Homo sapiens: one gene and its partner. Changing the gene in region 2 together with the main gene of any one other region gives a genetic interaction. Each region holds a gene or a part of one and is shown on either strand. Other genes may lie near its edges.

The links. Genes that interact genetically often act in the same process or in processes that back each other up.
Region 1: of EIF2AK2 (region 2) and PRKRA, changing one enhances a phenotype caused by changing the other (phenotypic enhancement), as found in Homo sapiens cells (one study listed by BioGRID).

The regions. Positions count from the first base shown.
Region 1 is NC_000002.12:178,441,167-178,448,199, reverse strand, and holds part of PRKRA (interferon-inducible double-stranded RNA-dependent protein kinase activator A), read left to right. Parts: intron 1-613; coding exon 614-695; coding exon of another isoform or gene 696-744; intron 745-2,664; exon of another isoform or gene 2,665-2,774; intron 2,775-3,699; coding exon 3,700-3,778; intron 3,779-4,815; coding exon 4,816-4,933; intron 4,934-6,495; coding exon 6,496-6,590; intron 6,591-7,033. UniProt on the Homo sapiens protein: Activates EIF2AK2/PKR in the absence of double-stranded RNA (dsRNA), leading to phosphorylation of EIF2S1/EFI2-alpha and inhibition of translation and induction of apoptosis.
Region 2 is NC_000002.12:37,132,961-37,139,993, forward strand, and holds part of EIF2AK2 (interferon-induced, double-stranded RNA-activated protein kinase), read right to left. Parts: intron 6,798-7,033; coding exon 6,671-6,797; intron 5,626-6,670; coding exon 5,549-5,625; intron 5,404-5,548; coding exon 5,310-5,403; intron 4,058-5,309; coding exon 4,023-4,057; intron 2,587-4,022; coding exon 2,524-2,586; intron 1-2,523.

The DNA of each region.
Region 1 (7,033 bases), about 140 Mb from region 2:
TACCCATGCAGAAGATACAGACCGTCCAGAAGATACATAACAAGCTGTCACCTTATTCCATAAAACTCTTTCCTGTTGTACCCAACACATAATCATGACTGCTCAGCCTAGCAAAGCAGTTTGATACGTTATAGGACAGGCTGTCAGAATAAAATTATGCACATTTTGCTATCAAACAATTCTGCTGTAAATGGTTCCTTTAAAAGAAACTTCTTGCTGCAGAAGAATTTCCCCTCCAGGAATAAAGGAAGAGTAAAATACTAATCTGCATTTCTTCAGAGGTGTGACACGGTCTACTTTATTACCATGTTATATAATAAACATATATAATGTAGAAATAAGGATTTTTATGCAGGTATGCATAGAATTATATAGAACTTTAAAAAGTTATTTTTTAAAATTTTTTCACATGGTGAATATTTTATTACAGTATATAACCATGTAGTATATAACATGTACATATTTTTATGTACAGTATATAACGTACATATTTTTATTACCTAGTATGTGTATGTAAAATCTATAGTGACTTTGTTTTGTGTATTGAAAACATCTTTGTAAGCTGCACATTTTTGTGGGAGATAAAGACTTCTTTTTTTAAATCTTAATTCAGGTGAAGGTACAAGTAAGAAGCTGGCGAAACATAGAGCTGCAGAGGCTGCCATAAACATTTTGAAAGCCAATGCAAGTATTTGGTGAGCTAAATTTCTTTGTATTCAGCAGCTCAAAAATATCATGGCTGAGGTAAGATTAAAAATTTGAACATGCTTACAAAAGCAACAAAGTGAACAGTTGTTAGCATCCTACCTCTCAAATTCTATTTCCTTATGAAAACTTATCATCCATTAAAGAAAACTTTATCCAATCAAATCCAGCAATTAGCTATTAAATGAAGGTGCTCATGAACTAGGCTTTACTGTTTTTTTTTTTTTAATGGGATACAACAGTAGAAAATCAGTGCTTCTTGCAAATATTAATATTAACATTTTGTATTTAGACTTTGATTATTTCTACATTGAAGAAAACAAAGTGTGAGATGGAGAAAGATCCACTAAAAGTACTCTTTTGGGAATTCTAATTTTGAAGAAGCAGGCAGAGGTTTTCTTTTATTATATAATGTATACCAAAAGAAGAGAATGTTAAGTGGGATATTAATTCTTGACATATCTTTCTAAAGTAAGATTTTTTTTTTTTTTTTTTTTTTTTTGAGACGGAGTCTCGCTCTGTCGCCCAGTCTGGAGTGCAGTGGCGGGATCTCGGCTCACTGCAAGCTCCGCCTCCCGGGTTCACGCCATTCTCCTGCCTCAGCCTCCCAAGTAGCTGGGACTACAGGCGCCCGCCACTACGCCCAGCTAATTTTTTGTATTTTTAGTAGAGACGGGGTTTCACCGTTTTAGCCGGGATGGTCTCGATCTCCTGACCTCGTGATCCGCCAGCCTCGGCCTCCCAAAGTGCTGGGATAGATTTTTTACTACTTTAGGTGTTTCTAGATAGAATATTGGTCCTGGAGCATCTCACATATTAAAGTAGTGTCCACTGGGTGCACTCTGGAGCTTGGCATGCTTTCAAGTTCTTCTTGTGCATACACTTACATATGCCTGAAGTACGATCTGTGTAATCAGCTTATAGTTGACAGTAGAGACCCAGGGAATTTGGGATGGGTTTTTTGTTCCCTAGTCATAGAAAGGCTTTTGGATTAGGGGTGTAGTTAGGTTCTCATGTAGTATTCCTCTCTTTTTGTAAATCATTCTAAACCGTTTGGGTAGTTTAGAACTAACCAGTGACATGGCAACCCTCTAGATAAGCAGCTGCCCAAGACAAGCCTTGCATTTCACAAGATGATGCTTGATTCTCTAGGGTCATGCATTATAATTGATCTATGCCAGGCTGGGCGGGGTGGCTCACGCCTGTAATCCCAGCACTTTGGGAGGCTGAGGTGGGTGGATCACTTGAGGCCAGGAGTTCAAGACCAGCCTGGCCAACATGGCAAAACCCTGTCTCTACTAAAAATACAAAAATTAGCCAGGCATGGTGGCAGGCGCCTGTAATCCCAGCTACTTGGGTGGCTGAGGCACAAAAATCGCTTGAACCCGGGAGGCGGAGATTGCAGTAAGCTAAGATTGTGCCCCTGCACTCCAGCCTGTGAAACCCTGCCTCAAAGAAAAACAAGGCCAGGCATGGTGGCTCACACCTGTAATCCCAGCACTTTGGGAGGCCAAGGTGGGCAGATCACTTGAGTCAGGAGTTCGAGACCAGCCTGGCCAACATGGTGAAACCTCGTCTCTACTAAAAATACAAAAAATTAGCCGAGTGTGGTGGCACGCTCCTGTAATCCCAGCTGCTTGGGAGGCTGAGACACGAGAATTCCTTGGACCCAGTAGGCAGTGGTTGCAGTGAGCTGGGATCGCGCCATTGCACTCCAGCCTGGGCGACAGAGCAAGACTCTGTCTCCAAACAAACAAAAAAAAGACATGCCAAATGACATGGCAGGTATTGGGTTCTCCCCCACTGGTGATGGCCATGCTGTTTCTGTATAGCCTGAAGGTGAACCCAACCATTAAGTACATTTGTAGAAATGAGGGGTATGGAGTGTCCTTTCTGCATCTTGGCACTTTGTCAGCAAAAAAAGCTAACAAACTTTACTATATTTGTGCTTCTTGACAGATAAAATGGGAATTACTAAGCTGTAATCAGGCCTAAAGTGGCCTGACTTAATACAGAGACTTTCTCACTTCTCCATCACAATTATTTGGGTAGCTTCGGCATGCAGCATTGTAAGTGAATACTCATATCTCATCAGCCTATGTAAAGCTTGAAATTCTCACAGTTGGAAAAAAAAAACCTTGAGGAAGTGGCAATAACTAAACCTCATTTGTCATGGAAAAATGACTCCAGTTGCCTAGGTGGTACTAACCTTGAAATGCCGCTTATTCAGTTTTAAGTACTGACCTGCTAAGTAACTAGTAATTCCAGACTCCCTAGAAGAGGTTGTTCTCTTTTTCCCTAATCATAATCCCCACTTGCTAAAACCAAATTCATCTAAGCCATCTATTTTCTGCAGGATACATGTAAATCTTAGAGGATTATCCCAGCACTGAGCAGATGATAGATCAAACAGATCTCTCTTCATAGTTCTGTGGATGAAAAAACAGTATTTACACATAATCTGTATTATTCACATTGCCAGGCTAAATTTTCTGGATCATTGTTACTCTTCTGTTTTTTGTATAGTTGTAACAGAGTATTCTTTAAATACATTTTTATGGCATGCCTATTATGTACAAAACACCACAAAGCTTATGTAGGTAAGTGATACATAGGCCCTACCTCAAGGAGCTTACTGTCTGAACAGGGGAGAGGTGTGGTGAAGGATGGACAAATTATATGTATTTGTAAGAGTATATAATTTATGGTAAAACAATTTCAAGAAAGGATTAAACCATGTGTTATAATGTTTCAAAGAAGGGAGAGATTATAAACCACTGGGGTAAAAGGATAGGCTTCTTGGAGGAAGTGACATTTGAGATATATCTTGGATGACCGATCAGATTCCCATAGAAGAGGTCTGAGAAAAGGGCATTCCATGTAGAAGGAATGACAAGAGCAAAGACATAGAGAGTTAATTAGAAAATGCTTGTCATTTATTTCATAATTCGGGGGAAATTATTTTGTTTTATAACACTTTTAAAAAATATTTAGCTTTGCAGTTCCTGACCCCTTAATGCCTGACCCTTCCAAGCAACCAAAGAACCAGCTTAATCCTATTGGTTCATTACAGGTAAGTTGTACAGTTCTTTGCCTACTGATGAAATATATAATAAGTTTGTAATGTCAGAGGGGCTAACACAAGGAATTAATATTTTAAAGACAAGATAGTGATATATTTTGTTTTCCAACTTACGATCATTAGATTAACAGAGCTAACTTGAAATTATTTTCCTATTTATGTTCTGGGTTTTCTTTCATATACAGTATTTGCCTTTGGCTTATAGAATTCTCATTTAAGATCAACAGGCCCTCAGTGCACATGGGTAAAGTGTTTTATACTTTAAGAATAGTTCTTGCTACTCTTGTGACAAATCTCTTTCTACTTCTGTTGAGACAGAAGACTTTATAGAGAGCCTAAATCAAATCAGTGAACCTAACTGAAGAAAAGGAGTCTATTTGCTTATTCTACCAAAAAAAAAAAATTTTATCTATACACACACAAACACACACACATATATTCAGCTTTGAATTTCTATATGCAGAATATCCTTCTTGCAGATTATCCATGTGCTCTGTTAGGCCATTTCCCTCCCCATTATTCAGCCAGTCCTTTGGTCTCCTTTTCCTGCACAGTGAGCTTTTCTATAGTTTTCTTCACCTTCTGTCCCCCACTTTATGCAAGTCTGTTGTTTGCTGTCCCTACTCCTCATGTGTTCTTGGCCAGCTGTGGGTTTGGAAGTCTATAGCTAGGAGGGGAGGGACTTTAGGAACTGATGGCAGTGAAACCTGTAGATGGTCTCCTCTGGTGTTGCCAAAGAGGGCGGTAGTAGCCTGTTTTTCTAGTTGATGTCTGATACCAGCTCACTGTGGTTTAATGCAAGAACACCATTCGTAGCACAAAACTGCTTCAGTTTTGGTATTGGGGTATAAAAATATAAAATGCGGGAATGTCTTTGAGAAATAGAGGGTCTTCCCTCTTTTTTCTGTTGCAGAATATCACTATTCTTTTCAAACATATACATAGAAATGGGATCAAAATTAAGAAAACACTTATGTGATTGAGCCATTGCATAAAATTACTATTAAAGCCTCATCTTGATTTTATAGGAATTGGCTATTCATCATGGCTGGAGACTTCCTGAATATACCCTTTCCCAGGAGGGAGGACCTGCTCATAAGAGAGAATATACTACAATTTGCAGGCTAGAGTCATTTATGGAAACTGGTACTTATTTCTTACAATTAAAGGCATTTGAAATATTTTCAGATGATGAATGACTATCGAAATTTCTGTCGTAATGTTTTCAAATATTTCTATGCAGAAAAATTGATACACTCCTCTTTTATTGTCTCTGACTTTCTGAGGTTGAACTTAAGTATAAATATTTGGCTTAAGATACTTAGTCTTCTTAATTTGATATTTTTAAAAATCATAGATTATTAATAGAAAGACAAACTGTTGGCTCTGTACTTTAAACAGTCTTCATTGATAAATTACTGACTTAAAAAACCTCAATTTGGAGAAAAAGCTATAGTAAATCTCTTGGATTTTAACAGCTATTCTATCTAGAAAATAGGACTAGAGGAAGATTACACTTGAAAATTATATGATTAATAAGAGACTACATGGCAAATAATTGCAGTGAGATAAAAATGAAAATTATCTTTCTTAATTATAGCAACTTCTATGTTATAAAGGATATAAACTATAAGAAACGCTGTCACTTTAAAAAGTACTAGCGAGAATTCCTGTTAACTTCTCTGGCATGTTTTTGTTATTTTCAAAAGTGGCTTAAAATGGGATTTTAGCTTAGCTAGATAATAGTTTCAAGTAATAAGAAACTATTTGCCTTTGGGAGGTAGTGTGGCCAGTACAGAAAGCACCAGGCCAAAAGCAGGAACCTCAGCTTCCGTCCTTGATGCAGTCCTTGATTCGCGAAGTTAAGCAAATTACTTAATTTCTCTGGACCTCAGTTTTTTAATCTATAAAACAAAAGCATGGAGGTAGATATTTATGGTATCTTTCAACTCCACCATCCCCTGTGCCTTTCTTATTCCTGTTAAAAGGAATTTCATATAATCGTCAGTTTAGAGAAGATCATAAGCAGGAAATAGACATTGAGAGAGAGGAGTTATAATTCAGATGTATTTTAATAAATCTAAATAATTGGTCAGAATTAAACCAAATATGGTTCAGTAATGCTAGACATAGGAAAATACAATTATTATAGAAAAACAGAAAGCATAACTATTAAAGAAAAACTTAAAACAAATGTCTTCAAAAGTGTAAGAATTAGTAACTATACAGGCCTGGCACAGTGGCTCACACTGATAATCCCAGCCCTTTGGGAGGCTGAGGTGGGCCGATCATATGAGGTAAGGAGTTTGAGACCAGCCTGGCCAACATGGCAAAACCCTGTCTGTACTAAATACAAAAAATCAGCCAGGTGTGGTGGTGGGCACCTGTAATCCCATCTACTTGGGAGGCTGAAGCAGGAGAATTGCTTGAACCCAGGAGGCGGAGGTTGCAGTGAGCCAAGATGGTGCCACTGCACTCCAGCCTGGTGACAAAGTGAGGGTCCGTCTCAAAAAAAAAAAAAAAAAGAATTAATAGCTATACAAACAAAATAGCATAACAAACAAAGTTATCAGGTCAGTAAGAACATAGTCTAGTATATAATAAAAACCGTGAGGTTCTCTGATTAAACACAGTACTTCATACGTTTGATCATCCTCTGTGGACACTAATTTCTTTTCTAAATCTACCATTTCTTTTTCTTTGTTCAGGAAAGGGGGCATCAAAAAAGCAAGCCAAAAGGAATGCTGCTGAGAAATTTCTTGCCAAATTTAGTAATATTTCTCCAGAGAACCACATTTCTTTAGTGAGTAATGTTGACAGCTATGATGTTAATGTCATTAAGCATTTCTTGCAGTAGGAAACTTTCCTTGATTTCTTATTCTATAGCTACTTCAGAGTTGTGATTTTTAGAAATCTCTTCATTATTCAGTTATACCCTACCCCATTTTTAGCTGCTTCCTGTTTGTGAGTCAGGATCACAGAGGCAATTAGGTAAGAGAGCTTGGGAGACACAGTCAAATTCAGAATAATAGGACGGGATCTAAAGATGATAGGCCAGTAGTGCCATTTTTGCCTTCAAAGTGACAGCGCATTTCCATCCCTTTGTTTGTTCATTCATTCACTTAGCAAACATTTAGTGAGCTCATACTGTGTGCTAAGTGTTGTGTTGGGTACTGGGGTGCAGTGAATAAGCAGTCCCTGCCTCTAAGGAGTTTATAGACTACTGAAAGGAAGGAATTCTATAGG
Region 2 (7,033 bases):
TAATAACAGAAATCATCCCCAGGTTCAGGGTGCCTCCTTCTTTTCAATCTGATAATGGTCCTGAATTCATTTCTCAAATTACTCAAACACTTGCACAAGCCCTACGAATCACCTGGAAGCTACACATCCCCTATCAACCCCAGTCTTCAGGAAAGGTTGAAAAAATGAATGGCATTCTAAAAATCACCCGCACCAGGTACTCACTCCAAACACATAAAGACTGGGTTACACTTCTAGCTTTGGCCCTCCTAAAAATTCGGGCACTCTCACGTAAACCTTTAATGCTCATCCCCTTTGAACTCATGTATGGGAGTTTTGAGCATAAGTATTTGAACTCATGCTCCTTTTGTTCCACCTCAGGGTCAAGCCCCACCTCTAACAACCCCTCTCATTTCTCCTCTTCTGCATATCATCTGCCATTTCATTTGGGAATATGCTGACAAAATACAACTCCTTTAATCCCTTCCTACAGTCAGGAAACTGGGTTCTGGTAAAAGGTCCCAGCCCTACCCCCAATTCCCCCCTCACACCAAAATGGAAGGGGCCTTACCAGATCTTCCTCACTACACCCACAGCAGCAAAGCTCCAGGGACTCCCCAGCTGGTTTCATTATACTTCTCTCAAGAACACAGACTTCCCTTCACTACACATCCAAACAATCAAATCTAAACCACCTTCAGCCTCTCTTGTGTCTCCACAGGATCCACTTCCCTTCATCTCACATGAATGCCGGAGGAAAAGGAAGAGAAATTCACCTAAGCAGCTATGTCTCTTTCTCTCCCAAACTTTCATTGCTTCCTAACTAGCCTTGTTACAGACCTTCAGTGGTATCCTTATGAAACTCTCATTATACATCCTGATCAGCTCCTTACTATTCCACGGGATTTATGGCTTCAAGGAACCTTCCAGGACTTTATTCCTACCCAAACTTTTTCCTCCTTTTGTTGTTTCTTTCTATCTAAATTCCCTAATCACATCAACCTCACCGATACAACCACTCCTCACTGCTATCAAACTAGAACGTTCTATAAACCTTACACAACCCCTCTTGCTGCAAGCTAACTCTTCCTTTGCTCCAGAATGCTGGATGTGTTTATCGCTGTCTTCTTCAGCTTATACATCCCTTCCTACACCCCTTCATGACCTTTTAACAGAAAACGTAACCCTAATCTATAAACTCCAAAAAGGAGCTTCCTTTTTTGAAAGAGCTGACAGTCTGGTTGGCGATTATCCCACTTCCAAGGTCAATCAGGCCAACACATTATTTCAAACCTATTACAACTCCCTACAACGCCTTAAGCCACAAGGCCCTCCCATTGAAGGGCCCATAATTAAACACACCCCACTTTTACAACAAGCCTCACTTTGCTTTTCAGCCTCTGAGGGAAATTTCCGTGTAAGATCCTTAAACCTAACCAATGCAACCGCATTATCATTGTTAAACACCCTGCTGACCATCAAACTAACCGAGTTGACTACCAAGTATCACCTGAAACGAATGGAGCATTTCTGCAACCTGTTCGTTTTGCAGCCTCTCCCTCAACCAATGCCTCTGGCCTAATTTGTGCTGCCCCTAGCGCCCACCTTTATCCATGGCTCAACATCAATGCAATGGTGCAACATCAAATCGTATTAAATGTGTAAAAAATAACTCTTCCTATATCGCTACTATAGTGGGTGTCTCCTTGACCTCCTCCTTGACCACCTGGAGTAATGAACCATAGGAAAGAAAAAACACCCATCTTTAATTCACTTGTTTTCTTTCTGTATCTCCAACTGTATTTATGACAAAGGCTTATTTTTTGTGTGAGTGGCACCAACACATATCTTTGTCTCCCCACTAACTGGACTGGAACCTGTACCCTAGTTTATCTTTCTCCCTCCATTGGACTAATTCCTCCTAGCCAACCTTTGCCCATTCCATCCATCCAATACGTTAGGAAGAGGAGGGCCATCCACGTCATTCCTTTAATGGCTGCCTTGGATATAACCTCCAGACTTGGATTGGGAGCAGGCAGATTGGCCACTCCCTTAACATACTTTAAAGCTCTTTCCACAGAATTACAGGGTTCTTTAGAAGATATAGCCTGAAGCATTATAAGAGTCCAAGACAAACTAGACTCCTCGGCTGGAGTAGTCCTCCAAAACAGATGGGGACTAGATCTAATAATGGCTGAAAAAAGGGACCTCTGCCTCTCATTGGGTGAGGAATGTTGCTTTTATCTCAACCAATTGGGCCTAGTAAGAAACGCTGATGAAAAACTTAAAGAAAGGGCTAAAAAGCTAAGGGAGTATCAAAACAACCAACTAGATTCTTGGTTTGGGAACAAAATCATAATATGGGTCATCCCATTCCTGGGCCCCCTCTTAATGATAAGCCTAAGACTATTGTTCTTACCCTGCGTAGTTAATCTTATTCAAATATTTTTAACTGACAGGATCATGGCCATTTCACAGACAACTACCAAAAACATCCACCGACAGCATTACCCCTTCTTCTTTCTTCAGCACTTAAAATCTTACCTCTTGTCCACAGTATACTTTGTTTCTTTCATGTCAGGAAGGTCAAATCTGGGTGCCAAAGATCTAAAAATTAAGAGTTGAATGTAAAACTCAAATAAAATTGAAATCAAATATAACTTATTTAGTGTTAATGTTAACCTTTTTCTTTCTTTTTTTTTCTTCAGAGGCAAGGTCTCACCCCATCTCCCAGCCTGGAGTGCAGTGGTGTGATCATAGCTCACTACAACTTTGAAATTCTGGGCTCAGAGGAGATCCTCCCACCTCAGCCTCCCAGGTAGCTGGGATTACAGGCATGTGCCACCATACCTGGCTAATTCTTTTTATTTTTAGTAGAGACAGGGTCTCTTCATGTTACCCAGTCTGGTCTCGAACTCCTGGACCCAAGCCATCCTCCCACCTTGGCCTCCCAAAGTGCTGGGGATCACAGGCGCAAGCCACAGCACCCAGCCAACTTTTTTCTTTATAAAACTATATACTTACCGTTCTCCTCTGGCCTCTAATACTTTTTCATCCCTCCTCTGGTTCCTTTTTCCACCTTAGAGTGCTCATTGTTGATGCGTCACTAACCTCTCCTTTTCCTCCTCCAGACTCAAAACCTCAGGAAGTACATCTCCTTACACCCTCATCCTAGCTGTTATTCCTTACTGATGATAAGCCACCTGCAAATGGAAGTTTAAATACCACCTAAAACTAAACATATCCAAACTGCTGTCTTCTCTCTAAGCCCTTAACTCCTTAACTTCCTTAACACCATTAGTGCCATGGTTCTTGACTGCATCCTGTTCAAAGTGAAGCAATCTTCAAATCCTTTCTCCTTTACCTCTCCTTCATGCTTTCACTCAGCTACGGGGAACCTATTCCCTCAAGTCATGTCCACTCTTCCTTTACAGTCTTTCTCACACATTCTCCTCATCCCTCCTGACTGCCACAGTAATCGTGGCTGAGGGCACCTCATGTGCAGAACTCTCTTCTCTCCATCCAAGCATCCACATCAAGAACCATGTTTCTTCAATACATCTATCTACTGCTCAGAATATACTGGTGGCTCATAATGGCTCCTACTGCCATCTTACTGTCATTTCTGACTATATTTACATCTTTGCCTTTCTCTTCAGTTAATTGACATAGCATTTGACCTTTTTTTAATCCAAGTTTTTATGCTATTTTAACCTTACTTGTCTGCAAAATAATACACTTCTCTTGAAAACACTTCTACAGTGAAAACAGCCCAATTCCTTGCCAGTCTTGTACAAAATAATGCCCTTAACCTAATTACTCTAGCGATACCCCCAAAGTGCTTTATGTTTACAGTGTAGCATGTGCACATAGTCAAAGATTTCTCGACACATCTAAAATTATTTGTTTATAGATTTCAAGCTTTCTGCTTCTGAAACTCTGCTCAAATAAGGGTGTACAATACTCTACAAGTATTAAGAACAATAAATAAGTCTGAAATAAAACTTCAGATCAAAATATGTTCAATGCATAATGATACTCACCTTTTTGCCTTCCTTTGATTATTTCTGAGACCATTCTATAACAAAAGAAAATGAGAAATAGTTTCAGATGACTAAATCAGTCATCTTCCTTTCCCGTTTTCCTTCCTCCTGTATATCTAGATGGCTCTCTGACCAATTTCTTAGTCCATCAATGTCTGTACTCTCATCAAGCCCTGTATCAACACTTAGTATTGTAAGACTTAACTTTTTGCCAATCTAATGAGTTTAAAATAGTATCTAATTGTTTTGATTTAAATTTTCCTGATTCCTAGTAAAGCAGCTTTTAATATTTGTTGCCCATTTGGGTATCTCTTCTCTGAATATCTGTTTATACATTTTGTACACTTTTCTACTGAGCTGCTTGCCATTTTCTTATTGATTTGTAGTTCTTTATAACAGAATACTCTTGTAACACTAATCACCAAAAGCATGGATTTTGCTCTAAGTTCAACATTGCCTGCTTATGTGCACAAAAAAATTGTCTGGTTTTTGTTTGTTTGTTTGTTTTTGCGATGAGGGTCTCACTATGTTGCCTAGGCTGGTCTCAAACTCCTGGGCTAAAGCGATCCTCCTACCTTGGCCTCTCAAGTGCTGCAGGCTACAGGCATGTGCCACTGCACCAGCCTAAAAAATTATCTGATTTCAAGTTTACTTTTAAGTTTAATTCTAATTTTTAAAAACAGAAACGAACTATATTAGTGAATCTTTAAATATTATCCCATTGGTAGGAGAGAAAAGCAAAATCATAGGAATATACTAAAATATAAGGATGAGTGAGGAAAGACAGAAGTGACGTGTGGAAGGGTAAGGAATGGAACTTAATTTTAAAAAAAGTCAAAAAGCTGCCGAGCCGGGCGCGGTGGCTCATGCCTGTAATCCCAGCACTTGGGGAGGCCGAGGTGGGCAGAACACGAGGTCAGGAGTTCGAGACCAGCCTGAACAACATGGTGAAACCCCGTCTCTACTAAAAGTACAAAAATTAGCCAGGTGTGGTACACGCGCATGTAATCCCAGCTACTCAGGAGGCTGAGGCAGGAGAATCGCTTGAACCAGGAGGTGGAGGTGGTAATTAGCCAAGATCTCACCACTGCACTCCAGCCTGGGCAACAGAGGGAGACTCCATCTCAAAAAAAAAAAAAAAAAAAGTCTACTGAGGTATTATCATTTAGTAAGAGTGCATAAGATAAAAAATATAAAAATTATGGTGGAATACTGGAAGTTATTTTTAAATGAGGAAACGCACAGAAAAATAAGATTAAGTAGGAAGCTTCGAGACTAATACGATACCATAAGCAACGAAGAACTGTTTAAACTGTCACTGTTAGAATTTATCTCTGATGTATCTGCTGAGAAGTCACCTTCAGATGATGATTCAGAAGCGCTAGAAGAAAAGGGTGTAACTATTAGTTTATTAATTCTGTTTTTATCACTTATTTCTTTCCCTAAATTCTCCTTAAACATAAAAATCTGTCTTTCAGACAGAAATATGAATATGTTAAGTATCTCAATTGTTTGTCTACACTTACAGTGTGCTGGTCACTAAAGAGTTGCTTTGGGACTCACACGTAGTAGCAAAAGAACCAGAGGACAGGTAGTCAGATTTCTGAAAGAAAAAGTATCCCTTAGTAGGCTTAAATACAACTAATTATTTCTCTACAGAGGCTCAGTTTCTATGTACTATCACATTTATTTCAACACATTTACCAAATCCACAACCATAAACAATTACAAGATTAATAACATTTTTTGGATGTTTGGTCTGGATTTTATTTTATTTTTTATTTTACTTTTCTGGATCACAGGGCAGATATTTTGTTTGTTTCTTTCTTTTCAGACAGGATCTGGCTCTGTTGTCTAGGTTGAAGTGCAGTGGCACAATCTTGGCTCACTGCAACCTCCATCTCCCAGGCTCAGGCAATCCTCCCGCCTCAGCCTCCTGAGTAGCTAGGACTACAGGTACATGCCACCACACCCGTCTAATTTTTTTTTTTTTTTGTAGCGACATGGTTTTGCTGTGTTGCCCCGGCCAGGTGGTCTGAAACTCCTGAGTTCGGCCAGGTGCAGTGGCTCAAGCCTGTAAACCCCAGCACTTTAGGAGGCTGAGGTGGGTGGATCATGAGGTCAGGAGTTCAAGACCAGCCTGGCCAACATAGTGAAACCCCATCTCTACTAAAAATAAAAAATTAGCCGGGCACGGTAGCAGGCGCTTGTAGTCCCAGCTACTCAGTAGGCTGAGGCAGGAGAATTGCTTGAACATGGGAGGCGGAGGTTGCAGTGAGCCGAGATCGTGCCACTGCACTCTAGCCTGGGCAACAGAGCGAGATTCCATCTCAAAAAAAAAAAAAAAAAAACTCCTGAACTCAGGAGATCCACCTGCCTTGGCCTCCCAAAGTGCTGGGATTACAGGTGTGAGCCACCACACCCAGCCCAGCCTGGAGTTTAAAAACTACCCTGAGTTGCCACCAGAAATTTTATCCCTCTGAGGCCTCATGGCCCCATGGTGCATGGCTCATCGGTACGACACAGAATGGAGGAATCATTTTGCTAAATCACTGGCTGTCTTGGCATAATGTTAACACAGTCTAACCTCAAGTCAACTTCAGAGGGAATTTTAAAACATAAAAATTTAATCCAAAGGCAATACGTACCACTGAGGTTTCTTCTGATAATATCTGAAGATATGCAAGTTTAGCGGCCAATTGTTTTGCTTCCTGTTTAGTAGAACCTGTACCAATACTATATTCTTTCTGTCCCATTTTGCATTTATAATGAAATCTAGGAGAAATCATAGAAGGTACTTATCCAAACATGAAAAATATAGCAAATCCAACTTAGGATTCAAAAAAAATAACATATTAACAGAGATCTTAAGATAACACCAATTTATTAGATAGATTTATAGTTCATATCTTGCATAATTTAAACCCTCAGTAACATGCCTGACCAATTTCTCTGAATACCCAGGATCAGCTGACATCTGAGCTTGCATTTTCCAGGCAATTTCTAATTTT